Homo sapiens: one gene and its partners. The protein of the gene in region 2 interacts with the protein of the main gene of each other region in a biochemical or structural test. Each region holds a gene or a part of one and is shown on either strand. Other genes may lie near its edges. The genes, in order: FBXO45, MYCBP2 and NMNAT2.

Region 1 (6,951 bases), on a different chromosome or scaffold from region 2:
GGATGAAAGGAAAACATTTTGCTTGATATCATTTTGCTTCTATTGAAGCTTGACTCACACGAACACATTATCTATTACATATTATAATATGAATCTTGAATCATGTGAACATTTCTATTACAAGTCAATTATCAAAACAACAACTCCTAATTTAGGCTGGGTGCAGTGGCTAATGCCTGTAACCCCAGCACTTTGGGAGGCTGAGGCAAGAAGATCGCTTGAGTCCAGGAGTTTGAGACCAGCTTAGGCAACAAGGTGAGACCCCGTGTCTCTAAAAAATAAAAAATTAGCCAGTGTGGTGGCACATGACTGAAGTGCCAGCTACTCGGGAGGCTAAGCTAAGGAGGATCCCTTGAGCTCAGGAGGTCGAGGATGCAGTGAGCTATGATTGTGCCACTGCACTGCAGCCTGGGCGACAGAGTTTTGTTGTTTTGTTGTCTCAAAAACAACAACAAAAACTCCTAGTTTAAAATAAGTAAAAACAATAAACTTTACAGAAAAATAAAAACTAAATAAAATTTATGAAACCGACACATTTATCAAAGTAGGACAAAATTCCAATCGTCTGTACTCACCTATATAAATTACAACCAGTATCCACTGAATAGCCACCACGCACAAACAGTCCTAGTAAATTATTGTTATTTCGCTTAATAGAAAAACAACTTGAGGCCGGGCGCATGAGCTCACGCCTGTAATCCCAGCACTTTGGGAGGCCAAGGCGACGGATCACGAGGTCAGGAGATTGAGACCATGCTGGTTAACACGGTGAAACCCTGTCTCTACTGAAAGTACAAAAAATTAGCCGGGCGTGGTGGCGGGCGCCTGTAATCCCAGCTACTCAGGAGGCTGAGGCAGGAGAATGGCGTGAACCCGGGAGGCGGAGGTTGCAGTGAGCTGAGATCCCGCCACTGCACTCCAGCCTGGGTGACAGAGCGAGACTCCGTCTCAAAAAAAAAAAAAAAAAGAAAAAAGAAAAGAGAAACAACTTGATAGTTTACATATTTAATGGCAATGTTCCCTATCTTCTATAACTAAAACCGGTTTTACTACATAAGTATAAATTTTACATGCTTCACATGAAAAAAAAATTTTTACTTCTTACTCCGACCCCTGTTGGCAAGCTAGCATTAAAAAGGGGGTGTTATCGCGCGGTGGCTCACGCCTCTAATCCCAGCACTCTGGGAGGCCGAGGAGGGCGGATCACCTGAGGTCGGGAGTTCGAGGCCAGCCTAACCAACAAGAAGAAACCACAACTCTACTAAAAATACAAAATTAGCCGGGCATGGTGGCGCATGCCTGTAATCCCAGCTACTCGGGAGGCTGAGGCAAGACAATTGCTTGAACCTGGAAGGCGGAGGTTGCGGTGAGCCGAGATCACGCCATTGCACTCCGTCTCAAAAAAAAAAAAAAAGGGGGGGATGTTATCGTTTTAGTTACTAATGCATTCATTATGTTTAACACATTGCAATCAGACTTTATCTTCTCTTATATATGATCTTGATTGACTGCTATACTGAATAGCTGTTAACCATTCAACTCAACTCAAGACCAAGACCCTTTGTTTATTCGGCCTGAGAGTCCTTTCAGCCGTACCACAACTTGTTCCTTGACATTTTTATTTTGTATATGAAGGCGGGCGGAATATGCAGGAAGGATGCAGCGAAACTGTAATCAGCACGTTAGATGACAAATAGAAAAAGAGAGACACCATCAATGTGGAACTATTAAAAAGTTAGCAAGGAAACAGCCAATAACAGCAGGACAAAGCAGTATGTTAGGTGGTGCCCGTGGACGTTCTATAAAAGCCTGTATCTTGTAAGTGAGCAGGATGACTAGAACTACACTCACTTGTAAGCCTCCAATATAGTGGAGGGAACTAAAGAGAACTTGGGGGAAAATAATGAAAACAAATGGTTAAAAATCAGAGCTTGGAAAAGATGAGATAAACGTGGAGTGAAAGCAAACTAGAAACTTAGAAACTTAGAAACTAAGCCCATGTTAAGGTGGCCGGGATTATTTAATATAATGAAGTCTATCTGGAGGCCGGGGAGAAAAGTAGGATGAGGGCATTAAAAGGTACAAGAGTGGTGGTCTGTCTTTAACGGGGAAAACTGTCAAAAGTTGAATGAGTGAGGCAAACTACCTAGTTGTTTGAAAAGTGGATCACGGAAGTGGGATGGGTTAAGGAGCAGAACTTCGATCCAAAGAAAAGAGAATCTTTATCTTGGGGGGAGGTGAGGAAGATACTGACTGGAGCCGTGGAAAGGCGGGCTGGTGAGGCGAAGCTTCTGACTCAGAAGCTCGGATGAGAAACACCGCGAACGACGCCGGGGAGCGGGACTGGGGGCAGCGGTGTGGCCCGGGGCTCTCTCACCTTGGCCTTGTAGCTGGGCAGGTTGCACAGGATGTCCGTGCGCAGAGCCTCTTCTGCCAGGCTGCGGGCGCACAGGCTCCGCCACACCTCGCTGTTCTCATCGCCGTGCAGGCAGCGGTACCAGTGCTTGCACACCAGGGCGCAGCTCCGCAGCTCGGACAGCTCCAGGTAAGAGAACACCAACTCCAGCACCCGGCTGGGCAGCCGGCCCCCGGCCCCCGCGGCCCCAGAGCCCGAGCCCGCGCCCGCGCCCGCGCCGCCGCCGCTACAGCCAGCGCCGCCCGAGGCTGCCCCAGCCCCCGGGGCCGGCGCCGCCATCGCCTCACCAGCCGGCCCTAGGGCCGCCGCTGCCGCCGCCGCTTCCCGCCGTCTCTGCTCGGAAGGCCAAGCCTCGCCCGGAGACCGGAGCGGCTCGCTCACCGCCCCTGTCAGTGCCAACCGCCGGCGCCTCCACCACTCCCGCCCCTGCCCGGGGGCGTCCGCCGCGCGCCCCGCCTCACTGAGGGCAGACGCACCGGCTGCAGGGGCGTCCTCCGCCCCTCCTCCGCGGCTCAGCGCGGGCGCCGAAACCGCCCGACTCGCCCGGCCTCTCCGCGGCGCGCCAGCGGCTCCGCCATGCGGGTTGAGGGCACGAAGCAAGGGCGCACGCCCAGCTCGTTCGCGGTTCCTCTCGGCCCCGGATGTGACTGTTTGGCTGCGCCGCCTCACGCCTGACGCTCGACGGGATTGGGCGCCGGCGGGTGAGGTTATCACTAGGCGCCGAGGAGGGGAGCGGGAAGCGCAGGTATGAGGCTGGCGCCGGTGGCTTCGATGCTGCTTTCCGGTGACTTCGATGCTGTTTTCCAGTGCTTTTTCCTTTTTCTGGTCTGGTGGCTCCGCGTCTGCTCTCCTGGGCTCCCTTTCCTGTGACGTTTCCCTGTGTCCGTTAGGTCCTTGCTTCAGACTCCAGCTCAACGCATGAAACTTTTCTCTCCTTGCTTGCCGGGTCCTGGCTCCCCAACCTTTTTGTGTAGCTTGGGCAGCGGAGGCCGTCTTTACCTGGTCAGGCCCTCTCGTTCTCCCTAAGTATCGGCACTTAGCGAACGTCTGTCCCTGTGTGCCTTCGCAAAGTAAGGTGGCTGCGACTGAACACCCCCTCGCCCAAACGTTCGAGTGCCATTTGAGCGCTAATTAAGTGCTGCCGTCTTTTGGACAAGATGTGGTCTTTACTGGATCCACCGCTTAGTAAGCAGATGAAGGCAATGTAGTTTTAGTCAATTAAACATTCCAATAGGGAGAATGACGTGGAGGCTATAATTATAGATGGATTCTTGGAAGGGGAAGAATTTCAGCATCCCAGCTTGGGCAACATTGCGAGGCAGTGTCGCTACAAAAAAATAGAAAAATTAGCCGAGGGTGGTGGCGTGCGCCTCTGGTCCCAGCTACTTGGGAGGCTGAGCCCGGGAGGTCGAGGCTGAGGTGAACCGTAATCGCCCTGCTGTGCTCCAGCCTGGGCGACAGAGTGAGCCCCTACCTCACACACACACACACACACACACACACACACACACAAGAATTTCAGCATTATTTGATTATACTACGATTTCCTAGGTGGCCCCAAAGTTTTCCGACAGCCTTTAAAGCATGCTTAGTAAGAGAATAATAATAACCATCATTTGAGCCACGGTGTGAACCAGGCACTGTATACTACGTCATTTACGCAGATTTTTATATACGTAATCCTCAAAACAACTCCATGAGCTGAGTAATTAAAATAATAGGGTTCACAGACTCCCTTGGTCAACTCCAATGTCTTGGAACCTTTATGTAGTAAGAAATCTTTTCTGAAGCTTCTTGCTATGTATAATCCATTTCTTAGTCTCTAGTAAAAGCAAAGGAACGGTGGCTACCTTCCCTACCCTCTGATTCATGGTGTTTGATTATTATTTGCCTGTCCCTTCTCCTCATGTCTTTTTCACCAAGTCCAGTAACCCTAATTCTTTTCATTCTTACCAGTGCCAGCGCCACAGCCCTTCAATCATTTTGGTTGCTATCCAGCTTCTCCACATCAAGTCCAACTTCAGAAACCCCAAGCCTGTAGAGAAAAGTTGACCTGTGCTGACTCTGGTGATGGTGACTGTCTCTCACTAATTTCTTTGAAGTCTTCAAGGATAAGCAGAGTTGATCCATCTGAGAAAGGGATCATGAACTAGACAGAATGAACAGCCTTAGAGGCACAGACTCTTGAACGGGACGGTGGTGGTATGACTAGTGCAGAGTGTTTAGAGATCACTCAGTTTTTAAAGACTGGCCTTTATCGTGTCTCAGTGCAGCCGAGGCAGAGCCTTTGAAGGATGCGATGTTGTCATTCTTACTAATCTAGTCCAGCCGCTGAGGTGACTTTCAACGGCAGACCGTCTCCTGAGCGCCCCAGGTAGAATTTCAAAGTAAGATTACCCTTCTCAACCCCTCCTTTTCTTTTTTACAAATCTTTCACCTGCTCATCACCCACCCCACCAAGCCCCTTCCCCATGTTCAGTACTCTCATTCTGCGCTCTGGCTGATGAGAACTGCCGGCTGTGGCACTTCACCCTTTTAAAAAATGCTCTCGGCCGGGTGCCGTGGCTCACGCCTGGAATCCCAGCACTTTGGGAGGCCGAAGCGGGCGGATCACCTGCAGTCAGGAGTTTGAGACCAGCCTGGCCAACATGGTGAAACCCCATCTCTACCAAACATACAAAAATTAACCGGGCGTGGTGGTGCATGCCTGTAGTTCCAGCTACTCAGGAGGCTGAGGCACAAGAATCGCTTGAACCTGGGAGACGGAGGTTGCAGTGAGCCGAGATTGCACCATTGCACTCCAGCCTGGGCGACGAGAGCGAAACTCTGTCTCAAAAAAAAAAAAAAGAAAAAAATGCTCTCAAAATAACTCACCTGGCAGGGCACAGTGGCTCATGCCTGTAATCCCAGCACTTTGGGAGGCCGAGGTGGGTGGATTGCTTGAGCTCAGGAGTTAGACCAGCTTGGGCAACATGGTGAAATCCTGTCTCTACAAAAAATAAGATAATTAGCTGGGCGTGGTGGTGCATGCCTGTAATCCCAGCTACTTGGGAGACTGAGGTGGGAGGATTACTTGAGCCCCGAAGGTGGAAGTTGCAGTGAGCAGAGATTGGGCCACTACACTCCAGTATGGGTAACAGAGGGAGATACTGTCTCAAAAAAAAAACACAAGAAAAAACTCACCTTTCCCTCACCCACTCTGTGTGATTTCTTTAGGTATTAGAAGGAAGTGATCTATTATCTAATTAAAGTAATTTACAGTAGGATATGATTAACTGCTGTGCTTAACGCTTTAGGCAACTCCATAGGAAAAGAGAAGCTTGTTGACTTGATACGTGAATGTGGGGATGGTGACACTTCACCTCTTTCTGCCAGGCTTTCCAGTTGCAGTCATAGAAAAGCAAGAAACAGTGGCTTGCCAACTCATTTCTGAAAAATTGTTTTGATTTAACCCAACTTTAATTACATTTTTTCCCACTACCCTTCTATCACAGCAATCTGATTAACTTTTTCATAGTGTTCTTTGGTGTGTTTCAAATAATAACAAATCATTTTAGTTTTATAGACTAAGTAAACAATTTTGGAGGCTCTAGTTGAATCGCTGATCAATAGTTTGCATAATAAATCTTGATTGACTAAAATTAATAGCCTCAGAGTTTATGGATTTCTGTTTCTGGGGCTTTCCAAACTCCCCCCTGCCCCCTCACCCCGACTCTCACCCAGGCTGGAGTGCAGTGGCACAATCTCAGTTCACCACTGCAACCTCCACCTCCCAGGTTCAAGCCCTCAGCCTCCCGAGTAGCTGGGATTACAGGCACGTACCACCACACCCTGCTAATTTTTGTATTTTTAGTAGAGACAGGGTTTCTCCATCTTGGCCAGGGTGGTCTTGAACTCCTGACCTCAAGTGATCCGCCCTCCTCAGCCTCCCAAAGTGCTAGGATTGCAGGCGTGAGCCACCACGCCCAGCCTCCCCTGGCCCCTGCCTTTTTTTTTTTTTTAACATTCCCAGTAACAGTTATTTATTTTTCTGACTAGATAAATGATCAGTAAATATTATCTATGTGATTTAGAGAGTAGGAGTTTAGTGTGTAGAGTTTAATAAGATGAAAGTGTTCTTGGGGTCTTGTGAGACTAATAGAACAAGAGTTACTACTGGTTCCACTGTGGAAAAATTTATAGGAACTGTAGTCTTTATAATAATCCCTTTAAGGACAAAATTCGTTTATTGCCTGTCTTCTCACACTTCGGAGCAAAACTTAACTGAATGAACCTTGAAGATTGAGTTAATCTTTTCTAGAAAAGAATTAAATTAGGAAGAAAACCTGCTAAAACTTTTGTCTGTCAGTCAGCATTTATTTGGCTCTCCTGTGGGTAGATTTGTAATGGAGAAACAGGAGCACTAGAAACCTTGCCTCATTCTTGTTTCAGAGAAAACCTAAAATCCCAGCTGGGATCCAAAACCTGTATGCACACAAATATCAGCAAATCTTAATGCTCTAGAGTACAGACTTCCTGACTTCAAAGTTGATTCA
Region 2 (7,797 bases):
ACCCAAAGGAAAGAAAATCAGTATATAGAAGAGATGTCTGCGCTCCTGTTTGTTGCAGCACTGTTTACAATGGCCAAGATTTGGAAGCAAACTTATTGATGTAAGTGTCCATCACCCTATAAAGGGATAAAGAAAACGTGGTACACACATACACAATGGAGTACTATTCAACCATAAAAAGAATGAGATCCAGTCATTTACAATAGCATGGACTGAACTACAGATCATTATGTTAAGTGAAATAAGCCAGACACAGAAAGACAAACATCACATGTTCTCACTCGCTTGTGGGATCTAAAAATCAAAACAATTGAACTTATGGACATAGAGAGTAGGATGGTTACCAGAAGCTGGGAAGAGTCATGAGGAGTTTGGGGAGGGGAGATGGGGATGGTTAATGGGTACAAAAAAAAAAAATCAGAAAGAATGAATAAGACCTACTATTTGATAGCATAATAGGGTGACTATAGTCAATAATAACTTAATTGTGTATTTTAAAATAACTGAAAGAATGTAACTGGATTGTTTGTAACTCAAAAGATAAATGCTTGAGGGGATGGATACCTTATTCTCCATCATGTGCTTATTTCACATTGCATGCCTGTATCAAAATATCTCATGCATCCTATAAATATATACACCTTCTATGTACCCACAAAAAAATTTTAAAGTAATAACAAAATTTAAAAAAGATTAATCTAATAACTTATAAACTATACTAAAGTTTTCAAGGTTGAAATGCTATAGTTTTAAACTTTCTGTTTTTAGGACAATTATACTTTATATAACTTTCTACATCAGTTGTGAAAACATCCTCTAGGCTAAATGCATCACAACAATGAGATTTTGAAAGAATGTGATTTGCATTCAGATATATAGTATTGAATTCACATACTTAAAAAACATATACTAATATATTTTAGGATAATTTTTCACGGATGAAAATGTCAATATATGTCAATATATAACTTAGGATCCCTGGAACCTAAATTTTTGGATGTGGGAAAACTTGGACATATAATTTACATCTTTTAAAACTACCATGAATAAAAAAGAAAAACATTAACTCATCATGCTTACAAGTTACTGAATATCCCAAGGCCCTAAAAATATAGTTGTTTAAAGCATGAGGTTAAGATAGCCAGGGGATGCAATATGTAATTTATGTTTAAAATAATTTCGATAGCCATGTTGAATTTTTCCCTTCAGCTTGGAGTACTAAATATATTCTATGAAATATACTTTATTTTAAAGTGCAATATATTTGTCAAGAATGCACTATCTTATTACCCTTAAAAAGAGAAGGTCACTGAAGAGTAAAGCATGTCTTCACTCTTCAAGCCTAAGCTTTTTCTTTTTTTTTTCCCAAATTGTTCTCAGCTACCAATTTTGTTTTTAAATTCCCCAATACATTGTTGTACAAATCCAGGAAACAAACGCAGACTTTACCACAGCATTTTCAGCAGTCTCGATGTACCTAATAATATACATACTTCCTGTGTTTGTAGTCTTGTAGCTTTAGTACAATATTAACCCTTTAAATGAAACAACACTAATCTGTCCTCTTATATACACGTTATGGTTCCTGCCCTGTTATTTACTACATCAGCACGGGTAGCTTCCTTTAAAAACAAAATCGTTAAAGATGAGAGTAGGAAAAATGTAAATGTGATAAGAGTTCAAAAAACTGTGGTCCAGGTTTGCAATGTTAAGTGGAAAAGAACGACTAAATCTGTGATCACAAGGGGAAAGATGAAGCCATAGTCTTATTACATGGGCACAGGACAGAGAGATCTCTTTTGCGAAATGAGCATACCAACCACAAAGAATAAAACATACTACGCCCGTAATAAAATGGGCACAGGCAGGATTTGCCGTAGTTCAATGCTATTCTTTGAGGGCGAATGTGTCGTGGGTGAACTGCTGTCTAGCCCATTCCGACACCCAAGCCGCCCAGGCGGCCCCCACGCCCCCCGGCTGCAGCCCTCCCTGTACACACAAATGCACACACGCCCAGCCCGGCCGCTGGAGGAACTAAGATGGCAGCGCAGAAAGCACGGGGGCCGAGCTCGGTGGGGTGGGGAAAGAAAAGCAAAGCCCTCTGTGTTTTTTCATTCTGTATAGGTCCCCCTCTTTCCCCAAACACAAGGGCTGCGTAAGGCATTCGGTAGTAGAGCTCGCAGGAGCGGCGGGAGGGGACGCTTGCTTTGCATACTGCCAGAAACCCACGTCTCCGATCTGCAGCGACGGTTCAGGCGACCCTCGCGACTTGTGACCACACTCTCCTTCACGTCCCCTTGACAGTAGAAGTAAGGGTGACTCCAAATGCCTTTTTCTTTCTGGCATGCGCCCCACTCCCCCGCCATCCCAGGGGAGCCTTCCAAGTTGCCCAGCTGCCAAGGCGGTAGCTGTGGCAGTTGCAGGGACCGGGGAGCGCGCCGTGCGGAGGCAGGAAGAGGAGGAGGAGGAGAAAAAACGCTGCACTGGCTATCAATTTTGAGGAGAGCGACCGCTGCCGCTGCCGTGGAAGGAAACGCTGCCAACCGCAACAGAAATGCCACTCTCGGATACCTAAGTGAGCATGTGTGCGACTCTGCGCACGCCTAGTTGCGCAGCTCAATGACATCGGGCTTCTTAGCAAGTTATCCAGTTTCCGGGTTTTGAGTGTACCCATCAGGCTCCGTAGGGGCCTGTCTGGGACTGAACAGCAGTAAAGATTGAAGCGAAATTAATGAATGGTGGGAAGAGCCCGGAGACCAGGGCAGCCACGCGGGTCAATGTCCACTAGAAACTCTAAATGGGCAGTGACTGCACATTCCACCACCTGAGCCTGCGCTGTAAATGTTTTCTGTGCAAGCAACATTCATTCATTCAGCCAACATCTATTTCCCTCCTGTTCAGGGCTAGACCCTGTGCTAGGAGCCTGTGATGGTTGAACAGACACCATTGCTACCCTACGGAAAACCTAGTGTTTTGTTTAGTATGTGCTACCATTTGTGAAAATTCATGTGCCAAGTTGGACATCCTAGATCCTTTAAGTCCTCCCTCAATCTCATGTAGTGGGTATTCTTTTGAGCATTATTCAGAGGAGATAATTTGCCCAAAGCCAGACAAGTATTAAGTAGCAGAGTCAGGATCCAATTCCAGGGCTGTCTGATTTCAGAGCCTTTTAGCTACCCTGCTAGGTCTTGCAATAGTAATGGGCCCTCTCATTGCTTACCTGTCAGGCCTTAGAATTCTTAGAATTTAGCTGCCTCTACACCATTGTCTTGGTTCTCACTCCAGGGTTAGGGGCTGCCTGGTCAACACTGAGGTCTTTAACTGTGCTGAAGCATTAGGATAGAAATTTAGTCTAATAAATACTTACTGGATACCTACTACATGCAAAGTCCTGAAGTGGCTGAAGGAGACACAAAAGCAGCAAGCTCTGAAGGAACTTAGGTAAGGAAACAAGACAAATACAAAAACTTAACAGGGCTAATTACAGTACTAAAATACTATGATTCCACATGTCTTGTCCTTTGTTCCTATGTTTATCCCACTGCTAATTATCTTTAAAAAAACTAAATGAAATCCATCCATTATTTAAAGCTTCAGAAAAAAATGCATTGCTTTCAGCAACCTTCCACCCTAAAACTAGAATTAATTTACTTTCCTATTCCTTGTTGTTTGCACTTCTCAAACACTAAGGAGGATTTTTTAACATTTATTTTATTTTTTTTTAAGAGAAGGCCATCCGAAGAAGAGGCACAGATATAAGAACTAGTACATAGATGAAAGATACAGTACTGGGATGACAGAACTTATAAATTATTTTGTCAGGACTGTAAATTAGGAAACTCTTCAAATTGAGAGTCAAAGGATAAAACGTAGTAGGAATCAAAGTGCATTGGCACGTATATTTCTAGAGCATATACTTAGATGGGGTTCGTAGGTTAGCTTGGAACAAAGGACTGAGCAAATGTTACTTTTTTATAGACAACAACAAGATATGTGATGGATCTGACATTTTCAGACGCTATACAGTCTCCGTCACAATTATTGTTTCAGATCGCATTCAAGAATTATCTTTAAAAATGTAAGTTTGGGCAGAAAAAAATAAACCATTAAATGACCACTGCCAAGAGATAAAAGTGCACTCTTAGGTGAGTGAGGAGTCAATAAAAAAGAGTAATTTAAAAAATATTATTGCTCCGTTGAGAACAAGAATTTGGGAATGACTCTGGCTTGTGAATACTAGCCTATCTGTTATACTTTCACACACAAAATACTTTCACACACAAAAAAGAATGTGCTAGATTACTACCTGTCTTTGTAAGTAAAAGCTGTGTTAAACAAGCGTAAATCCTAATGACAAAAACCATATAAAATAAGATCGCTAAAGGCACTTCTAATTGGGATGGTTTTCTCTGCCTTAAACTCTGAATTAACCAGCACAATTCACAGTAAATCTTCCTGTTGGCAGCAGAGCCTTGGAGAAGAGGTAGCAGAAGAGCGTGCCACTCCTCCTCTGGCGATGGGCACGTTCCCCCTTGCTTTCTGGTCCTCGTTCTTCCACCTGGAGGGAACCTGAAGTCGAACGTCAGTAGCTGACAGCCTCCCCAGCACTTTCCTTACTCTTCTTCAAGCTGCCAGTAAAACCCGGAGAAGTGGACTACTTCAGATTCCGCACAACCCAACAGCCCCAAACCCAAAGCCCCGAGGCGGAGGGAGTGGTGGCGGAGAGGGGGTGGGGAGGAAAAGGGGCGGCAGTTACTGAGCATGTGCGAGGAGTGGCGCATGCTCTGTGAGGCCGGCAGCTTCCCATTGCGGGTAGCCCCGGCGGTGGTGGCGGTGGTAGCGGTGGTGGCGGCGGCAGTGGCGGCACCGCCTCCTCCTCACATTCCCGGGGTGGCGGGGTTAGATGAGCGGCCCCAGTAGCGGCGAGGGCGGCGCGGGGGGGAGGAGGAGAAGAAGGAGGAGGAGAAGGAGGTCGCTGTCTTTGTAGTCTCCCTGCTGCGGGAGCCAGAGGCCGCCGCCGGAGCCGTCGTCGTTGGAAAAGGGCTGTGTGTGCGCGCGCGTGTCTGCCCGCCCGGCCCGCGGGGACGAGGCGGCGGCGGCGGCGGCGGCGGCGAGGATGATGATGTGCGCAGCGACTGCCTCCCCCGCCGCCGCCTCCTCGGGGCTCGGCGGGGACGGATTCTACCCAGCCGCCACCTTCTCTTCCTCCCCGGCGCCGGGGGCGCTGTTCATGCCGGTTCCCGACGGCTCCGTGGCTGCTGCGGGGCTGGGGCTGGGGCTACCCGCCGCGGACTCCCGGGGTCACTACCAGCTGCTGCTGTCAGGCCGGGCCCTGGCCGACCGCTACCGGAGGATTTATACCGCTGCGCTCAATGACAGGGACCAGGGGGGCGGCAGCGCTGGACACCCAGCCTCCAGGTGCGTCCCCAGGGTGCCCTTCCTTGCGCCCCATGCCGCCCTTCCTTGCGCCCCATGCCGCGCGTGCACCCGCGTGTGTGTGTGCTTGCGTGTGTGTACCTGCGCATTTATTGAGCTTTCAGTCCGCTCTGGATGTCTGTTGGCAGGAGCACTTATCGAGATAGGAGGGTGCGGTGGCTGCAGTTTCTCGTGTGTGTGTGTGTGTGTGTGTGTGTGTGTGTGTGTGTGTGTGTCTGCCTGCCTATGTGGGGGGATAGTGAGGGGTGGTAGGGGAACCTGTGATGCTGGAAAAGGCGATGGTGCTGGTCGGCTGTGACACGTGTGTGTATCGTTGAGGTAGGAGGTGGCATGGGTAGAGAGGGTAAGAGGATGATACACGAAGAGAATTGCAACAGTGGCAAGGGAAGTGGCGTTTTCAGTGTCTCTGCCGCAATGTTATTTGCACGTGCCGCCTCTCCCATGACATTCCTTCCAGCCCTTTCCACCTCCCTTCAATCTGCCTTTCACCAAGAGGAGTCATGGTATAGATTGGTTGAGTTTTGGATAAGCAGGCCCGAGGGATAGGCGTGAGGTTTGCTTTAAAAAGATTTATGAATAAGGGACGCAGATGGAGATCTGTGTGGATGCGAAAGGTGTCTGATAGAGATTTTTAGAGCTGTACTTTGATAACCGGGCCTTTTGGTCTTCTAGAAATGAGGTTGCAGTTACTCTTGTGATCTGATGTCCCATCGGCCATTTCTCTTCATCCTCTGTTCGATTTCCTCTGTTACTTACAGGCTTTAGAGTAGAGAGGGTTTTGTAGGGAAAAGGGGAAAACTGCAGAACTTCAGAATATGACAGCTGGTACAGCGTTCAACTGCCACTAGCTAGAAAATCTGAATAGCGCGTAGATTTGTCTCTTTTACTTGGGTTGGCTACACCTTCAGCTTCCTTGATGTAGATGTTCAGTTGGTTTCATTTTCTTTTTCTTAAAATGTGGGTGCTTTTTTTTGCTGAGGGCTCTCCTATTGTTTTCTTTTCCATGCCCTTACATGCCGCATACCCTGAAGGTTGGTGACTGACTTGTTTCACCAGCTTTGACAGTGGTAATTGGGAGTTGGCTTCATCTTTTTTTTCCCACAGCTTCTTGCAGTACATGGGGAAAACATAGTAGGAAACTGTCAAAATGAGTTAAAGAGTTTACTGTTATTTATTGAATGTGCAATTTATTAGGCAATTGTTAGGTGTCTTTTTCTCCCATTATGAAAGGGACGAGGCTGTAAGTCAGGTATTTGTAGCTTATCACTAGGTATCATGGCTTATCTGTTGGAGACAGTTGTAAAGCTGGAGCTTTGTTCACACTTTTTCTAGGTTAACCAGTTTTCTCATGTCTGTGATTGTTTACAGGATTGGGCACAGCAGTAGTTTTACCATATGGATGTAAACGTGTGTAACTATTTTTTGCTATCTGAACTGAAGGCCAGAATGGCACAAGTCTGTTTCTTGCTAATGCTTTTGAAAATAGCACAAAACTACGTGAGACAGTTTGCCCTGATAATTAGGTATAATTTTGATCTGTAAATCTCTAAATTATGGCACCGCAGGAACATCTTTACAAACTCCTCTCAAAGAATTTAAATTTATTTTGTGTATGGTTTCCAGACTTATGCAATAATTTTTGACTTGTATATTCCTGTTTTGACTTCCTACTACTAGTGTAATATGATTTCTGTGTATCTAGAACTATATTAACGGTTTTAGACAAAATTAACATAGATTAATCATATAACATTTGTGAATGATTTTTTAGCCCTTGGTCCATTTTTGTACAAGCCGTCAATGAAAAGTAATGAAGAATTAGTTCAAGTATTTCAAGAACTACTCATGGAAATCAGCATTATGTTATGATATTGCCTGCTAATGCTTGTTCAACGCAACATTATTGTTTATTTAAGTTCACATTATTTTATTACAAAAAGTAGCCTGCAACTACTCTATTGATGATTTGATTAAGAATTAAATCACATTTCTTATTAAAGATGTTGAGGAAAGTAGACTTGGGGTTTCGGCTCTGAATGAATGATAGAATTATTTGTATAGGGACACAAGTTAAAGGAGAAGATGATATCTTTTAGAGAGACTGAATGGAGCAATAATAGAGAATGAAGCTCTAGTGAGCATCAGGTTTAAAGGTGTGAGAGAAAGGAGACAGTGAAGGAAACGGAATCAAAATTAAGAAGAAAATCATGAAACAGTAGCCTCTGTGGCTCTAGGAGAGTGGATTGAAAATTCTCAGAAGTGGTAAATGTTGAAGAAAGTGAGAACCGTTTTCAGGTCATTGATAACTTTTGAGGAAGTGGTCAGAATAGAGGGATGTGGTGAGGAGTGAATGGAATGTGT
Region 3 (7,358 bases), on a different chromosome or scaffold from region 2:
ATAGATGTGTCATCACATGGTAGAAGGAACAAATGAGCTCCCTTGAGCCTCTTTTAATCCCATTTATGAGGGCTTCCAGCTCATGATCTAGTCACTTCTCAAAGGCCCTATGCATTAGTATGTTCTTGCTCTGCTTTAAAGAAATATCTGAGACTAGGTAATTTATAAAGAAAAGAGGTTTGATTGGCTCATGATTCTGCAGCTTGTACAGAATGCATAACGGCTTCTAGGGAGGCCTCAGGAAATTTTTACACATGGTGGAAGGCAAGGGGGAAGCAGGCAGGACTTACATGGCTGGAGCACGAGGAGTGGGTGGAAAGAGATGCTATACACTTTTAAACAACTAGATCTCATGAGAACTCACTATCAAGACAACACCTACATGGGGGATGGTGTTAAACCATGAGAAATTGCCACCATGACCCAATCACCTCCCACTAGGCACCACCTCCAACGTGGGATTACAATTCAACATGAAATTTGGGTGAGGACACAGATCCAAACCATATCACCCTACCTCTTAAGACCATGACATGGGGGATTAGGTTTCAATATATGAATTTTGGGGGACAGAAACATTCAGACCTTAGCACATGGTAAGGTATCTCTCAGTCTGTTCTCCAATCTCTGCTAAGAAGTCCTATTCTCTCAATTATGAACTAGCTATCATTTATTGATCATCTACTATATGCTAGGTGTTCTACATACATTACCTCTAATCTTCACATCTCTGCAGCTTGGTGGGTATTGTTTTCCTCATTTTACAAATATGGCCAGTATAGCATAGCAGGGAAACAAGATGAGAGAGTAGCCTTGTATCAAGAGTAGGGCCTTCAATCAAAACTGTCAGGGTTTGAATCTGGTTCCATACATGCTAGCAGTCTCAACCCAGACCAGTTACTTAATTTCCCTGTGCCCCTGTAGGCTTATCTCTAAGATAGAATAAAATCATACAAACTCACAGAGTTATTGTGAGTGTTAAAGAGTTAACATCTGTAAACATTTTACAGTGCTTGGGCTTCTAGTAACACCCAATGAATGTTAGCTACTATTATTAATTTGGTGTGCCCCAGGGTTGAAACTGAGGACCTCCTTTTCACTCTGTATATCTGTTTCTCCCTAGGTAACCTCATCTAGTCCCATGACTTTAAATATAAACTACACTGAAGACTCCAAAATTTATATCTTCTGCCAAACATACTTTTCAAACGTTGAGTCACCTCATGTCACTTCTCCACTCAAAACCCTCGAATGGCTTCCCATCCCTTCTAAGTGAAAAAACCAGAGCCTTAATTAAGACCTACAAGGCCCTGTATGATCTGTCCTTCTTTTTGGACCTGTCTTTGAGTGCTTTCCACATTCTTTGTTTTCTCCAGTCACCTTGGTGTGCTTGTCAAACACCCCCAAGCACTCTTAGTCTTCCGATCCTTTATACTAGCAGTCCTGCCTGGTATATTCTTCCCTAGATATTCAAGTGACACATACCTTCACTTCATTTAGGTCCCTGTTCAAACACTGTCTTATCAAAGAGGCCATCTTTGACCCCTGCAAATAAAAGAGGATTTTCTTTCTTTCTCTTTTCTTCACATTCTGCTTTATTTTTCTTTATGGTACTTTTTACCATTATGTTTATTCATTTGTTTATGGTCTGTTGTTTTCCCCTGGAATGTGAGCTGTATTAAAGCAGGGACTCTGTTTTGTTCACAGCCCCTAAATCAGGGCTTGGTGCATGGCTGACACTCAATAAATATTGATTGCTTAACTATAATTATGTCAATTGCCTAGCTAGTGAGTCTCAGTTTCATACCTGAGTCAACCTCCCTTTACAAGCTCTAGCTCTTTTTAAGCCACTAATCTGCATATCATATTAGGGAAGATACAAACCCCATTATAAATATATATCAGTTCTTAGGAGTCTTCTATTTAAACTAGAAATTTTATGCGTATTAGGGTTGATTTGCTATTCATCATAATTTAACAAATATTTACTCCACACCTACCACATGCTCTTGGATAAGAAAAAACACAGTGACCAACTCACTAATATGGGGTGGAAATTTATCCAAGAAACTTGAAGCCCAGGATAGGTACGTATTTGTACTTGTCAATCTCTAAGTTAAGAATTATTGGCTCTGGCTGGGTCTGTGGCCCATGCCTTTAATCTCAACAGTTTGGGAGGCTGCCGTGGGTGGATTGCTTGAGGTCAGGAGTTCAAGACCAACCTGGGCAATATAGTGAGATCCCATCTCTACAAAAAACACGAAGAATTAGCTGGACATGGTGGCAAACACCTGTAGTCCCAGCTACTTGCAAGGCCGAAGTGGGAGGATTGCTTGAGTCCAGGAGATCGAGGCTGTGGTGAGCTGAGATCATGCCACTGCATTCCAGCCTGGGTGACAGAGTGAGATCCTGTCTCAAAAAAAAAAAAAAAAAAAAAAAGAATTATCCTCTATATCCAATTCATCTGCAAAGAATTATTGGTTCTTTCTGTTGTATAAGCATAGAACATCTATCTTCCCCTACCATTCTCAATTTCAGTCTACTCATTGTTTAAGCCAAATTTCAAAATCTATAAAACATATCCTGAGACCATCTACTTCTCGTTGCTCCCGTCTCTATAAACCCTGGTCTCAGGACAACTCCACTTGCCTAGGCTACCAGATTTTCCTAAATGCTTTCCTTGTCTTCCCATTTGCCCTCCCTTTCCACCCAGCAGCCAGAGTGATCCTATAAAAATGTAAATTACATATTATTCCCCTGCTTAAAAGCTTCAGTGGCTTCCTTTTGTTATTATTCCACTTAGAAAAGTGTCTAACTCTTGCCCTAGTCTACAAGCCCCATTTGATCTGGCCCTGATCACCTGCTGCTCAGTCTTCTATCATTTTTCCCCTTGCCCATACTTTCTAGCATCACTGGCCTTTCATTTCTATGAATACAGTAAGCCCTTCCCTGTCCCTGAATACGTGAGCTAGCAACTACTCCTGTCGCTCAGGTCTCACTGAAATGTCACCTCCCCAGAGAGGCCTTCTCAGACTACTTGATTCGTCCTCTCTTCTCCACTCACTCTCTGCTCTGTCAGAGAGTAAATTGCATTCACTTACTGTGCATTGCACAATTGCCATCTAATATTTATTGTCTATCTTCCTCCAGTAAAATGAAGACAGTGACTTTGCTTCACCAGCAGGGTTTATAGCAATACTTGACACATAATGAGCCCTCAAGAAACACTTGTTAAATGGTAAGTCTTTGTCTCAACTTTGGTAGCTTATGGAGGATCCCCATCATTTTCTTTTTTCTTTTTTTTTGTTTCGAGATGGATTCTCGCTGTCGCCCAGGTTGGAGTGCAGTGGTGCGATCTTCGCTCACTGCAACCTCTGCCTCCCAGGTTCAAGCAATTCTCCTGCCTCAGCCTCCTGAGTAGCTGGGATTACAAGCACTCGCCACCATGCCCGGCTAGTTTTTGTATTTGCTTTTTAGTAGAGACAGGGTTTCACCGTGCTGGCCAGGCTGGTCTCGAACTCCTGACCTCGTGATCCGCCCGCCTCGGCCTCCCAAAGTGCTGAGATTACAGGCATGAGCCACCGCACCCGGCGGATCCCCATAATTTTCTAATACAGTTTTAGTAACTCTGCCCCCTTCATGTTCTCTCAAACGGATAGCATTGCTTCGCCCACGAAAAGGATCAGTATTGCAGAGGAAGGGCTTAGATCACCCCTATCTCTCTGCAGCCAGCAGATCAAGATTTGGACTCAACTCAATAGTTTGGAATCATCAGATAAAGGAAAAAGGAAAAGCAGAAATGAATACTACTGAAATAAACAATGGTCATTTCTCACTTAAAATTTTGAGGAAGAGAGAAAGAAAAAATACCTTAAGATCAAACATTTTTTAACTTGGAGATGTTAGAGAAAGTAGGGGGGACAGAAAAATGTTAGAATGAGGAGGAAAACTGAATCAAGATGAGGCAAGAGGCAGAAAGAGCTCACACCATGCTGTGGGCTCTTGGTTCTGAGCTTGGATACCACGTCTTGCCTTCTGGATAAACTCTAAGGAAGACAGTGATGGAGTGAAGTGGGCTGGGGGCGATAGAGAGGATGGGGTGGGGCACCAGGCGAGAGATGCGAAGGAAGCCAGAACGAAAAGAGAGCGACCGAGGAGAGAAGAGAGCAGAGCAATACAAAAGCAGCCTCGGATCTAGCCGGAGCTGCAAGCGTTAAGGGGAGGCGGAGAGTGACGCGGTTTGCGTCTGGAGCGGCTCCTTGGAGTCCACAGCATCCACCGCCGGAGCCTCGCCTTCCTTTCTCCCTCTGCAGACACAACGAGACACAAAAAGAGAGGCAACCCCTAGACCACCGCGAAGGACCCATCTGCACCATGACCGAGACCACCAAGACCCACGTTATCTTGCTCGCCTGCGGCAGCTTCAATCCCATCACCAAAGGGCACATTCAGATGTTTGGTGAGTCCTCCCGCCCACCTCTGGAAGCCGCTTCCGCTCCTCTCCTTTCCCAGGCACCTGTGTTTTCCAGGGCGATCGAACGGGAAGGCGTGTGCCCCTTCGGAGGGGTGGGCCGGCTCATCCAGCTGGTGGAGGTCGGCCCCTTCATTTTGGACTCAGGGGAGGGTACGCAGACTGCGTTTCCGAGGCGTCACTTGCCGGGGCCAGACCCGGCTCGCAGGGGGCCAAAGGTGGGGGATGGGAGGGGACTAGAGATGAGTATCATTTGGGGCTGGGCAGGGGTTCGAGATACCAGAACTGGAGTGTGGCGGTGCGGTGGTTCGGCTACCAGGCTGGCGAAGACCGGGATGGGGGCAGAGGTTGGGGCGCCGAGTAGGGGAGGAAGGGGCTGGAGATAACGTGCTGTTTGTTTAGGATGGGCCGAAAGCTCGAAGGAGTTAAATCATGTATGTGCCTGGGATTCGCAAACACACTCGCGCCCGACACACCGGTGACAGGGGCTGGGGCTTCAAGATTAATTTCGGATTTGGCTGGTGATTCTGGGCGGCCCAGGGACCAGTGTTTGGGAATTGTGGGCCGTGTATTGCCCGCGCGAGGTGGATGCTGAGTGAATAGGGAGGGGGCCCTTTTCCGCCTAGGTTCGGCCTCAGGGACCCGCTGCCTAGGACGGGGAGGGGGCCGGGCGGAGGCTGCGGGAGGCCCTGCGCGAGCCGGAGCCGAAGGATCGGGGCCCAAGTTGGCTGAGGCTCTGCCCAGGGTGGCGATGGCACTCGGAAGGCTTGAGGCGTCTAGTGTGTGTACGAATGTGCGAATGACTGTGTGTGAGTATATGCGTGTGCGTGTTGGGGGGAGGGGACTTATCGCGCGTTTGTTTCTTAGAAGCTTTGGGGCGTGGAGTCAGAGAGAGCGAGCGGGGGCATCCGGCTGGCTGGTTCGGGGTCCAGCAGCGGTAGGGGAAAGGTGATCGATAGATGCCTATTGGAGGTCTCGCGCCACCGGTGGGAAGCCACGCGGCTTCGCAGCTGCTCGTAGGACTCAAAGGCGTGGGGCATGAGCGTTTAGACACGGAAAGAGGGACGCGGAGGTCACTTTAGAAGCAGGAATTGAGAAGTTAGAAGTTGGGGGTGCTTTTTCTTGAAACTGAGAGAAGCGAGGAGTAGGGAAAAGCGAGTGGGCTGGGATGGATGAGAGAGCGTGTGGGAGGCCCTGACCTGGCCCGCCAGCAAGGCGCTCTCCAGAGGCGGCGGTGCTGAAATGCAGGGCGCGCCGGAGCTGGATGCGGGCACACGTGTTTATCCGGAGCCTGAGGACTGCGCGAGCCCTCCTAGGGAGGTTTAGTGAAAACCACACCACAGCGGTAAAGACAGGGCGAGGTGGCTTAGGCTAAAAATATTCATCTTTAAACTTAAAAGGTGCGCTGAACTGGGCTCGCTTGTTAAAAACCTCATGGAAAGAATATAGAACTACTTTGAGCAAAGGGCAAATCGGGTAGGCATATCTACACGATAGAAGGAGGGAGGCTGAGAGATAGCCATCCCTTCTTCACCATTCCTTCAGCTTTCAAAAGTCTTTTATTAAGAACCAATGCCAACTTGCCTGTTAAATAAGGACTTCTGTTCCAGCATCAGGGTAGACAAGAGCATGTCATCAGTCTTCTAAGGACTATCAGTGCCCTAAGAACACTCCACTTTCACTTTCCTTTGATGCTGGTGTCTTCATCCCTTTCCTTCTTTTCCTGTCTGTCCATATGTCCTCTAGCACTTTATGTTGATGCGCTTTACTCCTCTCCCTTGACCAGGCAATGATGGGTTTTCCTTTGGAACCAAGAGAAAGGAGGAGTAGGGAAGAGCCATTGGGCTGGGGATGAAACTCTGTGGCTCTAAGAATCTTTGATGACCCAGCAGGTACTGCTCCTTTCTTCCTGAAGCTAGGAAATCCCAGTTGTTTTAGATTACAAGAGAAACAGATTTGGATTGAGAACCAAAGATTCTGTCTTGTAGCTGAAGATTCTTTGTTAACAGTAATAAAGGCTTTTGTTAAGCGAATGCTGACCTGCCAATTCTCCATGAGCTTCAAGGATAGACTATGTGGAAATAGACCTGAGTTGCAGTGGAAGGGTTTAGATATAGAAAGGTGAAAGGAGACTTTTGGCAGTAACGATTATTTACTTAGTATAAGAACTGAGGACCAGGGCAGAATGTGAACAAAGTCCTTTGCATGTCCATTAAAGTATAATTCAGAGAGTAATACAAAAAAAGGATATAATATGTTCACTCACTATGGCTTTAAGGAGTTTATTACCTAATGAAGAATTTAGCACATAAACAGGTGAAAATGAGGCAAGAATAAGAACACAAAATACACATTCAACTATTTTTGGTAGAATGTCTTATTGGAATCTTTGAGCTCTGGATAAATTTTATAATTTATTTTTGTAGAGCAGTTCTGGTTAACAAAGCCATTTCATCTATGTTATGTTACTTATTCCTGTTAAAAACCTTATAAGAAAAACATTATTACCCTTATTTTACAAATGAGAAACTGACAGAAGCCAAGTGACTTATGAACACACATGGAGAATGGGTGGCACTGAGACTTGAGCCTCATGTTCCTGATTCCTCTTGCAGAGGCCTTCATACTGCAACAAAGGCTGGAGGAAGTGCCCGCTCATCTTCTGACTGCATAATTCCATGAACACTCTATTTTCATGAACCATAAACTAAGAGAATTAAACTGGCCATCAACTAAGTGAGATTCATATATGTGCTTTTCCTTAAGATCTTTGTCTCATGTCTAAAGAAACCAGTTATTTATGAACTATTTCCTCCTTTTAAATTGCTTTAAAAATTTTCTCTGTGACAACACGGAAATAATTAATACAACTAAATTATCAAACTTT

Evidence for each region.
Region 1: the proteins of MYCBP2 (region 2) and FBXO45 form a complex in vitro, tested with the Homo sapiens proteins (one study listed by BioGRID).
Region 3: of the proteins of MYCBP2 (region 2) and NMNAT2, one has a biochemical effect on the other in vitro, tested with the Homo sapiens proteins (one study listed by BioGRID).

Annotation. Positions count from the first base shown.
Region 1 is NC_000003.12:196,564,729-196,571,679, reverse strand, and holds the start of FBXO45 (F-box/SPRY domain-containing protein 1), read right to left. Parts: upstream 3,021-6,951; 5' UTR 2,696-3,020; coding exon 2,378-2,695; intron 1-2,377. UniProt on the Homo sapiens protein: Component of E3 ubiquitin ligase complex consisting of FBXO45, MYCBP2 and SKP1. Functions in substrate recognition but also plays an important role in assembly of the complex.
Region 2 is NC_000013.11:77,324,095-77,331,891, reverse strand, and holds the start of MYCBP2 (E3 ubiquitin-protein ligase MYCBP2), read left to right. Parts: upstream 1-4,797; 5' UTR 4,798-4,903; coding exon of another isoform or gene 4,904-4,987; 5' UTR 4,988-5,116; coding exon 5,117-5,418; intron 5,419-7,797. Other genes in the region: uncharacterized LOC127898562, read left to right, coding at 4,904-4,987. UniProt on the Homo sapiens protein: Atypical E3 ubiquitin-protein ligase which specifically mediates ubiquitination of threonine and serine residues on target proteins, instead of ubiquitinating lysine residues.
Region 3 is NC_000001.11:183,415,284-183,422,641, reverse strand, and holds the start of NMNAT2 (nicotinamide/nicotinic acid mononucleotide adenylyltransferase 2), read left to right. Parts: upstream 1-4,261; 5' UTR 4,262-4,374; coding exon 4,375-4,459; intron 4,460-7,358.